Linked DNA regions of Homo sapiens: region 1 is linked to region 2. The links come from fine-mapping of genetic effects on gene expression. A gene starts in region 2. The other region holds a variant in brackets. All regions are shown on one strand. Distances are between the middles of the regions. Region 1 overlaps PPP1R12B (protein phosphatase 1 regulatory subunit 12B). Region 2 holds the start of PPP1R12B (protein phosphatase 1 regulatory subunit 12B).

Region 1 (5,254 bases), 200 kb after region 2:
AGTGAGCCATGATCATGCGCTCGCTCACTCGCTCGCTGTCTCTCTCTCTCTCTCTCTCTCTCTCTCTCTCTATATATATATATATATATATATATATAATTTTAGTATTTATAAGTATCTATGATAAAACTCAGGACCTGTTAAATTGTAACAAGTTCTGAATTAGTAGGGCCTGAATTACTGAGGTTTTTCTCATCTGAGGAGACCCTTCCCTGCCAAAACCAAGAAAATAAACTACAAAAGCATCCCCTGTCCCAAAAGTCTACATTTTAAAATACCTGTTCTGCTCTGGGAGGTGGTTTAGCCCCCTAAATAAGAACCTTGTGCATTTGAAGACTCAAGTTCCCTATTGGGGGTATGAAAGTGGAAGAATCAAAGAAAGCTTCAGTTCTTTATCCTTCTGAACTTCATCTTTCAAGGCAGACTAGCACTTTGGGATGACTGTGGCCCTCGCAAGGCCCCAACTTATGTAAGATCACTTACAAGTCACACATAATAGTGTCATTTTTCATGACCACCCAGTTTCAGACTTCAAGCTGATGTATCCACTAAGCTTGTTCCTTCCATTATCACCTTGCCAAGAATATCTAGTCAGTATTGGTCTCTCCCTTTCCTAACTACCCCTTTTTATTTACTGTATGTACTAGATGGTCTAACATTTGATTGCATTTAATCAATTACCTTTTTTTTTTTTTTTTTGAGACGGAGTCTCGCTCTGTTGCCCAGGCTGGAGTGCAGTGGCGTGATCTCTGCTCACCGCAAGCTCTGCCTTCCGGATTCATGCCATTCTCCTGCCTCAGCCTCCCGAGTAGCTGGGACTACAGGTGCCCGCCACCACACCTGGCTAATTTTTGTATTTTTAGTAGAGACGGGGTTTCACCGTGTTAGCCAGGGTGGTCTCAATCTCCTGACTTCATGATCCACCCGCCTCGGCCTCCCAAAGTGCTGGTATTACACGCATGAGCCACCGTGCCCGGCCAACTTTCTTGAATTACACTCTGTTTTATGAGTGTGCATATTTTACCTCCTCAGAGAAGAGCTCTTTGAGATCAAAGAGCCATGTCTTAGATTCTGTAATTGTCGATTTTATTCCTGTAAGTACTACTCACAAGGCTGGGCACATACAGGTGCTTAATGTAAATGCAGGGAATGAATGCTGCTGCCTGAGATTTGATCTCTCCGCTCCTATCCCATTTAGCCATCTGGAAAGGAGTCAGAGGCCACACACACTTGAGAATCTTATTTCTAACATGAAGGCTAACCATAGATCTTCCCAAGTCAATTCAGATTCCTGTTTATTGCAATTTGCTAGTATATTGGTCACTCCAAAATATGTGAGTTAATATTTTTGTTTTTGTGGGAATCAAAAGAGAAAAAGCCTGTGGAATCTACTAGAAATAAAAAGTTCTACCCTATGTTACTTAGGTCCCAAGTATTAATATTTATTTCCTCATGAAATGTGAGGTCTGGAGAGCCTCACTAATTCCTTTGTAAAAGTTTTGATTCACAGCCTAGTCCAAATAAAAATAAAGTTACTGCTACCCAAACAGGCTGCTGGACTGTGACATTTACCATATGAAAAAACCCGTCTCTTCCCAGGCTTCATGGAAAGCTTACTTCCTAAATAGGTATAATGGTGGTCAGTAACATCATGACAGGCTAGTGGGGAGAGACCTGGAATCTCAATTAGAGAAATGGAGTGAAACTCAAACAGTGGGATTTAAGGCCTAAATAAGGACTTTTAAAATTTACGATATACTCTATGCTGTATTCTAACAATATTTTGGAGGGACTGATCAGGCTTCTTAGGTGTTCATTGAGGCTGTGTTTTTTTTTAAAATCATCTGAATGTATTTCATAGTTTCAGATGCCCATACACATCTGTGTGAACCTAAAACTCCAAGCTATGGGGAAAGTAAATATAGATATTAAATGTGAGAAATGTGACCCATGTGCTAGAGCCACACAAGTTTTAGAGCTCCTCATTCCCCTGTTGGTCATTTTCATCCTATATAGTACACAGCATGTGAAAGGCTCGATGGAAAATATGCCGGAGGCTGCAAATGCATTTATGAATCACAAGAGTTTATGAATTATACATATAAAATGGCTTGCCTTAGGTATTTTATGGAGGCCTTAGTATATCCATATATTTCCTTCTACAATGAGTGCATTTTGTGAGTTTCCAAAAGATCAGAAATTCTTCAGAAGCTGGGAATATTCACAAAAGGGAGGTGCAGGTCTGCATAGATGCTAAGAGCTTTAAAATTCTAATAATATTAGGTAGCACAATAGAGACAACAAAAGATGAGTCTATCATTTAATGAACTTAATGGTTTTTCTTTTAAAATATAGTGATATGTGCTGCAATATGTGAGATGATGTTACATGATATCATTTTTACATGCCTTAAATTGATAGGGTAGTCACAATCTGGCATATGAGATTTTTCAGAAATATTTATAATATGAACTGAATGTAAATACTGTATTTGACTATGTTTAACTTTTTGTTCTATATGTATTAAGTAGTCAGTAAAGACAAATCAAGACATATAATATGATGAAGACATATGTGATTTAATACTTGCTTTTAAAAGTTAATTTTTCCTTGGAAGTATACTCTCTTACACATATGTATACCAGGTCACATGGACGCCTGTTTTTTTCCCTGCATAAGACAGCACTTTTGGTATTGCCCTGATTCTGAATGTATGTAATCACCTAGTGCAGCTGAGAGGCCATGTGCTATGGATGTTTCTTTTAGGATGTTACAGATAAATTAAACCATTTTTTTTTTAAGGGAGATCCTTGTGATAGTTGGAATTTCTAAAATGCCTCCCCAAAAGTCCTCACCTGATCTGTAGAACCCACGTATATGACAAGATAGCTCTCGCATGATTGTTCTGTTACATAGCACAGTTGACCTTAAGTTAGGGAGGTTTTCCTGGGTGGGCCTGAGCTAATCACATGAGCCTGTGAAGGCAGAGAGCCTTCTCAGCAGATGATGGAACGGGAAGCCAGAGAAATGTGAAGTGCGAAAAGAACTCAGTGCTTCAATGCTGGTTTGAAAATCAGAAGGGCCATGTGAAAAGGAAT[G/A]TAGGAGCTTCTGCAAGCAGTAAGCAGCCACTACCCTGCAAGGCAGTGGGTACCTGAAACCTCACAGGACTGGATTCCTGCCAACAGCCTGGATGAGCTTGAAGCAGATTCTTCCCCAGATGCTCCTGATAAAAGCCAGCAGCAGACTCCTTGATTTCAGACCGTTGAGAACTTGAGGAGGGAACCCAGCAGAACTGTGCAGACTTCTGACCTACAAAACTGTGAGATAATAAATGGTTTTAAGCCACTAAATTTTGTTTTGGCAGCAATAGAAAACTAATGAAATTGAAAATTTGATGATAATTTTTTTGATATAAAAAACAGCATAGGCCTCATTATCATTGCCCTCTACTGTCACATCTTTGCATAAATCTTGGAAGTTGTTGTTCCACCCTCACATTTATTTCCAGATTATGCAGGATCCCCAGATAAATTACTAGAACAATGCAGGCTTCACTTCAAAGTTAGAGACTGGTAGATTCTCTTTATTTCAAGTTTCCTAAGAATCTTCTCTGTTTGAATTATGAAGAAATCTTTTCCCTTAAGATAGAAGGATGGAAAACTTTTGTCTCTCTTAGACTTATATATGAAACCAGAATGATTCTTAAACTCAAAAGTTACAAAATTATACTATTTTGCAATTAACTCAGACCATGATTAGGTTTGCAGTACCTCTGAAAATTTGAAGGGTCCTTGCTGCAGCCACACTCACATCATTGGCTTGTTCATCATCAGTCAATATTCTGAGAAAACTGAAGGGAAAGAAGATGGTTCTCTGTAGACCATCCCAGAATAGCTCAAATTGTTTCCCCTGGCTCAGCTAGTACACAAGAACATAATATAAAATGTTCCTTCTGCTTAGTCCCTCTTCAGGAGAAAATGTAAATAGAAGTTTTTTCCCATCACTGTGGGGTCAAGCCATGACTTCAAAAGGAACTTGAGTTAAACCAGTTTCAGCCTTGGCAGCAGACATGTGACTTGGTCTCATTCCTTTCCCTTGGGCCCAGCTTTCCTGAGCCACAATTTTATTTTAAACTTGGTAGGAGTTTGGTTTTAATTATGTGCCTTCCTGAACTCCTGATAACTTTCAAGTTAAAAGTTTTTGTGGGGATTTTTCTAAGCCAGTCTCTGGTGTTTTGAGGGCCCTACACATTTCACAAATCAAAACCAGTCTGGTTTCTGTCCCTTTCTAGGATTGCCATCTGAATTAATGGTGATCTTCATTCTGTTCTTTTATTAGAAACAGGCCCAAGCAATGAGATTATTACGGGAGAATTTCAAGAGGTATGAAAGAAAGAAGTCTGCTTCTTAGTTTTGGGACATTTTTAAAACTATGGTCTATCCAGCTAATCATTCTTTTTACCTCTACTCTACAATGTATTCATATTGGTTTCTGAGCAGCTTTTAGTCTCTTCTTCTCTAGAGTCTCATTTACATTATCTGTTGTCCCCAGTTGGGCCATAAAAGCTGTGAAAGTAATTCCTTCTTTGAACAGTTTCTATCTAGTTCAGACACACTAGAGAGTCTCATTTTAGTGGCCATCATTTGTCTTCAACAGAAGGTAGAGCAAAACAATCTTTAACAAAAACACTTAGAGAAGTTCTAAGACTTCCAGATTAGAGCATACAGCATAATAAATTTGTGAATTAACCTACCAATTGGAGAAAAGATTCATGCCTTTTCTAAAATATATGATATCATCATGTGCAGATAAGCTATTCAGACTCTACTTACAGAGTAGACTAACTTCTGTTTTTGAGAAGAGAGAGGGAGTGTACAGAGGAGGAGGATGGAAGGATGGGACCATTGCCAGAGCATAGATAAGATGAGTCCGCATTCCTAGCCTCTAAAGGATCATCGATTTGGCTGGAGTCCCTAAGCCTTGTGTTCTAGGACTTCCCCTTATTTTCTGCCCACTCAGCTGACCTCTTAGAATCCTCTTCTCTGGGAGAAGCTTCAGTGTTCATTTCCCTACCTTATGTTCTGCTTGCCTCTTCTGATGTCACTTCCTGGCTCACTGTTCCCCTGAGATTACTTAGGCAAACTCCCACTCTGTCTTATCTCCTCTAGATTTACTTAGTAGTCTCCCTGCAGGGTTGGCAGTCAGCTTTCTTGAATGAAGTCGTGTTAGTCTAACAGTTGATTTGATCTGTGCT
Region 2 (5,501 bases):
AGAGATGGGGTTTCACCATGTTAGGGTGGTCTCGAACTCCTGACCTTAAGTGATCTGCCCGCCTTGGCCTTCCAAAATGCTGGGATTACAAGCGTGAGCCATCGCGTCTGGCCAAGAATTTTTAATTGCAATAAATGATGAGACATGACAAGTTCTATGGTGGCCATAAATAAATGCATGTAGCAAGGAAAATGAGGTTACATAATGTATACATTATTATACCTTGATTTTCCTTATGTACATTGTTATTGATAGTACACAGATTTGACATGAGGTTTAATTAGTATTTATAATGTATTTAAGAATATCCTACTAAAGCATATGGTGTTTAGACACAGTATTATTAAACATAATATTTTTTACATTTATATGTCACTTTTCATTTGAGGCTTTCAATTCAATAATTAATTGTTTCCTTAATGTATGATTTCCACTTCATTTCAGGGGAAATTGAGGAACAGGCAAATTTTCACATGACAGAATATAATAAAGTTTCCCTTTACAATACCCCAATCATTTTGCAACATTTTTTAAATGAAAAATTTTAAACATACAGAAACGTTTAAAGAATCTAACATTTGCATATGTACTCTTTCATTATGGGTAACACATTTAATTGTATTTTGTTCAGGGCTAGAGCACTGGAGGTTATACTTATTAAATCAATCGGACTGGCCGGATGCGGTGGCTCATGCCTGTAATACCAACACTTTGGGAGACTGAGGTGGGTGGAACACTTGAGCCCAGGAGCTCAAGACTAGCCTGAGCAACATGGCAAAACCCTGTCTCTACAAAAAATACAAAAGTTAGCCAGGCATAGTGACACAGGCCTGTAGTCCCAGCTACTTGGGGGGCTGAGGTGGGAGGATCGCTTCAGCCTGGGAGGTTGAGGCTACAGTGATCCACGACCATGCCACTGCCCTCCAGCCTGGGTGACAGAGCGAGACCCTGTCTCAAACAAAACAAAACAAAACAAAACAATCGGACAGATACATGTTTTATAACCCAGTCTTGGTGAATATAAAAATGTTCTATTTGCTACCTTAGGAATTTAGTATGATTTAGTATGCTTGATAGTATCTTTCTCTAGCTTTGAAAAAAAAAATCATGGGACAGGTACAGTGGCTCAGGGCTGTAATACCAACACTTTGGGAGGCTGAGGCAGGAGGATCGCTTGTGTCTAAGAGTTCCAGACCAGCCTGGGCAACATGGTGAGACCTTGTCTCTACAAAAAAATAAAAAAATAGTGGGTGTGGTGGTGGGCACCTGTAGTCCTAGCTACTGGGGAGACTGAGGTGGGAGGATCGCTTGAGCCCAGGAGGTTGAGTCTGCAGTGAGCCGTGATTGCGCCATTGCACTCAGCCTGGGTGACAGAGTGAGACTCTGTCTCAAAAGAAAAGAAATAAAAATCATGGAAGACATCTATTCTGTCTTGTAAAAATTTAAGGTATATGAAAAGAGTAGAGGAGGAGGAGGAGGGAGAAGGAAGAGAAATTATTTATTGGGATCCAATATGTGCCAAAGATAGTATTAGGCATCCTTGCATGTATTATTTCATTTGATCCACATGACTACCCTGTGAGATGTTATTCCCATTTTACACATAAGAAAACTGGCTAAGAGAAGTCAAGTAATTTGTCTGCGGCTGTGAATTCAATTTAAATTCACAGCTTAAACTCTTTTCACTACATCTGAATGCATCATTTTCAAGATCTTTTCTGGGCCTGGAGTAAGTTGACAGTATTTATGTAAAACATGTAATACTGTATCTGTATGTATGCTCCTCTTCCCCACGCTCATTCACATTTACCGTGATTAATACACATGTTAATAAAACCCTAGACTTAGAACTAGGATATAGAATCCAGTCGTTTAGGTACTTAATGTTTAGTTCTCTCCTCCAGAAAACAGGAATAATTACCGCCTTTTTTCCACTCCAAAGAATTGATGTGATAATTAGGGAGATAAGATTAGTTACTAGTCATAACAAGAATAAACTACAACTCCCAAAATGCCCAGAGGAAGAGGCTGACGCCAGTCCAGGAGACAGTTCCAGCTTTAGGGCAAAGGTGACCCCACTGGGTCCCGTGGCGAAAGAGAGAGCCGCCGGTCCTCGCCTTTTTTCTGATGCATCCAGGGATTTGTAGTTCCCTTACGGCCACCAAGTGCACTTAGGGCAGGCCTCTTACTACGAGTCCCGTGATGACCCGAGGCCGGGCAGCGCCTGCGTATTGAAGCCGAGGGAGCGTGCGGGCGGTACTACTGGCGGGAGGAGTAAAGATGGCGGCGCGAGGGTCTCCGCCCTCTGCTCCGGGCTGAAGCGCTCTGAGAGAGGCGGCAGCGGCAACTCGAGCCCCAACAGTAATTTAGTGTTGGTAGTTTTGGCAGCAGCTGCCGAGGCCGGAGCAATGGCGGAACTGGAGCACCTAGGAGGGAAGCGGGCAGAGTCGGCGCGAATGCGGCGGGCAGAGCAGCTTCGGCGCTGGCGGGGCTCGCTGACAGAGCAGGAGCCTGCGGAGCGACGAGGCGCGGGGCGGCAGCCGCTGACCAGGCGCGGGAGCCCCAGGGTCCGCTTCGAGGACGGTGCTGTCTTTCTGGCCGCCTGCTCTAGCGGGGACACCGACGAGGTGAGAAAGCTTCTGGCAAGAGGTGCTGATATCAACACGGTCAACGTGGACGGCTTGACAGCCCTGCACCAGGTAACTCCTTTCTTGGTCTTAGAGGCGTCCAGTCTCCTACAGATGAGCCTTTGACCCTGCGAGCCACCCCATGGGGAGTATCAGTGTTGCCGCCGACTCCTTCTGCATGGACACTGCCCTTTTGGGCTAATCGGTTTCATTCTTGGCCAGCTTCCTCCACTAATCAAGTCTTTTTCTGACCCCAGGGTCTTAGGAATAGCGTCACCCCGCTGCTTGGTCAGTGTTTGTATTTCCCTCCACCTACTTGTGTTGTCATGGTTACTGGTGATTTTTGTCCCTGGTCTTATCCCTGTAGATTAGTTATCTTCACTTATGTCTGGTTGGCGTGCCTGCACACCGCGTCACTCATAGGCACAGTGTCATTTGTTTGATGCCCTTTCAGAAAATTCAGTTGTTGTGTGTCCCCGTTATAGAATATCTTATATCACTTAAAGAGTAAAGCCCTTTACTGGGTAAAGACAAGCAGGTCTGAAACCACACCTCTTGTTTTGTTGATTTGTAGTACTTCAAAACAGTTTGTGTTGCCTCTAGGCTACAGCTCCTAGAACACGCTGGACCTCGTTGTTTTAGGTATCTTAACTTCCTTCTCAGCAGTGCTACCTCCCTGAGAGCTTCCTATGGAGAACTAAGTTACTGAATTACCTCTGTTTGATACTTATGGAATAGCTTTTCTATTTTTCTATTTTTTTTTCTAAAGTGCTCTATAGAAATCCCATGCCCCATGTATAGCTATACTATATGGATTGTGGATAATCTGTGCTTGGTAACGACACCTTTACTTCTGTCACCTAATGCAGCAATATTCTCTGTCTACTGACTGCCATGACTAACTACCCCTCTCTCCTCAAATGGAACTTCATCAGTTATTTTGGTGAGCTGAGAGCCGGACACCCACTCTTAATCTTTTGTATTTTTCTTCTTCTGCCGTCTGTGCAAAGTGAATGTATTGGCATGAGAATCTACTTCTAAATAATAACTCAACTTTATATCAGACCACTTCCCTAAATATATTTAGCCAATAGCTTAAAAAGTTACTTCTCACTATGTTTGCAACCCTTCTATTTCAGGTAGAAGAAACTCTTTCACCCTATTTTGTACCCATTTTTTTTTCCTGCTGATAATATTTCCCCACCTGAGGTAGTAACCAATATTTGTAGAGTGCTTTGCTGTTTGATTTCATATGTCTTACCCCATGTGAGTTTCAGCAGTGATCCTTTGAAGTAGGTGTGGCAGGTAGTGTTGTTATTCTCATTTTACAGATGAGGAAACTGAAGCTCAGGAAAATTATTTGTGCAAAGTTAGAAAGTAAAGAAGTGGCCCATAGGCATGGATTTTTCAGACTTATGTCACAGAGATCTCTATCTCACTTAATAAGGAGCTGAATGTAAAATGAGATAAAAGCTAAGAGAACCACATTAAATTCTAAACTTTAAATTTCTGAACTCTTTGGGAAGGTGAATTCTTGTTTTTCTTTTTCTTTTTCTTTTTTTTTTTTTGATTCAGAGTCTCGCTCTGTTGCCCAGGCTGGAGTGCAATGGCGAGATCTTGGCTCACTGCAACCTCTGCCTCTTGGTTTCAAGCGATTCTCCTGCCTCAGCCTCCCGAGTAGCTGGGATTACAGGCGCCTGCCACCACGCCTAGATAATATTTGTATTTTTAGTAGAGATGGGCTTTCACCATGATGACCAGGCTGGTCTCAAACTCCTGACCTCAGGAGATCCACCCTCCTTGGCCTCCCAAACTGCTGGGATTATAGGCATGAGCCGCTGTGCCTGGCCTAGTAATCTATTGAAATAAGAGAAGAAGGGGATGACAGCTATGGATTTTTTTTTAACATCTATAAATGCAATATAAGCATTCCTTTCCATTTATAGGGCTGACAAGGAGTTGAACTGAACAAGTATACTCGATTCTAGACAAATTCAGCTAAAAATTAAGCTGCTTAAAGATTTGAGGTCTGTTGAGAAACTGTATCTTTGAATCAAGACAACGGGCCTTTATTGGCTTCAGAACATTACAAGTCAGTTTCCGAAGAGTTACAATGTGTGTCTCCATGACTTGGAGAAGTTTTTGTTGTTGTTGTTGTTGTTGTTGTTGTTTAAAAAAAAAAAAAACAGTGTCTCACTGTATCTCCCAGGCTGGAGTACAGTGGTGCAGTCTCAGCTCACTGCATGCAACCTCCGTCTCCCAAGTTCAAGCTATTCTCATGCATCAGCCTCCCAAGTAGCTGGAACTATAGGTGCCCACCACCATGCCCAGCTAATTTTTGTATTTTTAGTAGGGATGGGGTTTCGCCATGTTGGCCAGGCTGGTCTCAAACTCTTGGCCTCAAATGATCTGCCTGCCTCGGCCTCCCAAAGTGCTGGGATTACAGGCATGAGCCACCGCGCATGGCCGACCTGGAGAACTCCTAAGGTACATAAAAGACTATTTTCAAATGGGAGACTGGAGCTGTTGGTAGCTGAACCACCTACTTTACAATGGATTCACCTTCTGTGAAATGGAGAGTGAGTGGTACAATTATCTGAATTATTTATTTAAAATGTCCATTTGTTATACAAGCACGATATAAATTATCTGGATAATTGCTTCTTTTCTCTCTTTTGGCCATGGCCACTTGACCAACTGTGGATTATTGTCTTGGCATGTTAGAAGCCCCCAGATAATACTGGGGGACAATTTTTCTCCTCCTACAACGTCACAGTAGATGATTTGCACTGCAGCTTGTGGTGCCTTGATGCTTCTTTTGGACTTAGAGACCTTCTTTCTTGGCAGCCTTTGCTGAGACCACGAGGTGCTTGA

What was found. PIP is the estimated chance that this variant, and not a neighbour inherited with it, causes the effect.
Region 1: its variant is the best candidate, but not a certain one, in a credible set for the expression of PPP1R12B in whole blood (INTERVAL, PIP 0.82).

Annotation. Positions count from the first base shown.
Region 1 is chr1:202,548,739-202,553,992 of GRCh38, forward strand. All of the region lies in intron 18 of PPP1R12B (protein phosphatase 1 regulatory subunit 12B), which reads left to right. Among named protein-coding and RNA genes, the nearest start is that of SYT2, 160 kb to the right of the region's middle. The variant G/A (reference allele first, on the strand shown) is at 3,099.
Region 2 is chr1:202,346,444-202,351,944 of GRCh38, forward strand. It overlaps PPP1R12B (protein phosphatase 1 regulatory subunit 12B), which reads left to right and starts at 2,256. Exons shown (of 24, transcript NM_002481.4): 1 at 2,256-2,699. The coding sequence starts at 2,409. RefSeq lists enhancers at 2,003-2,543, 2,215-2,524.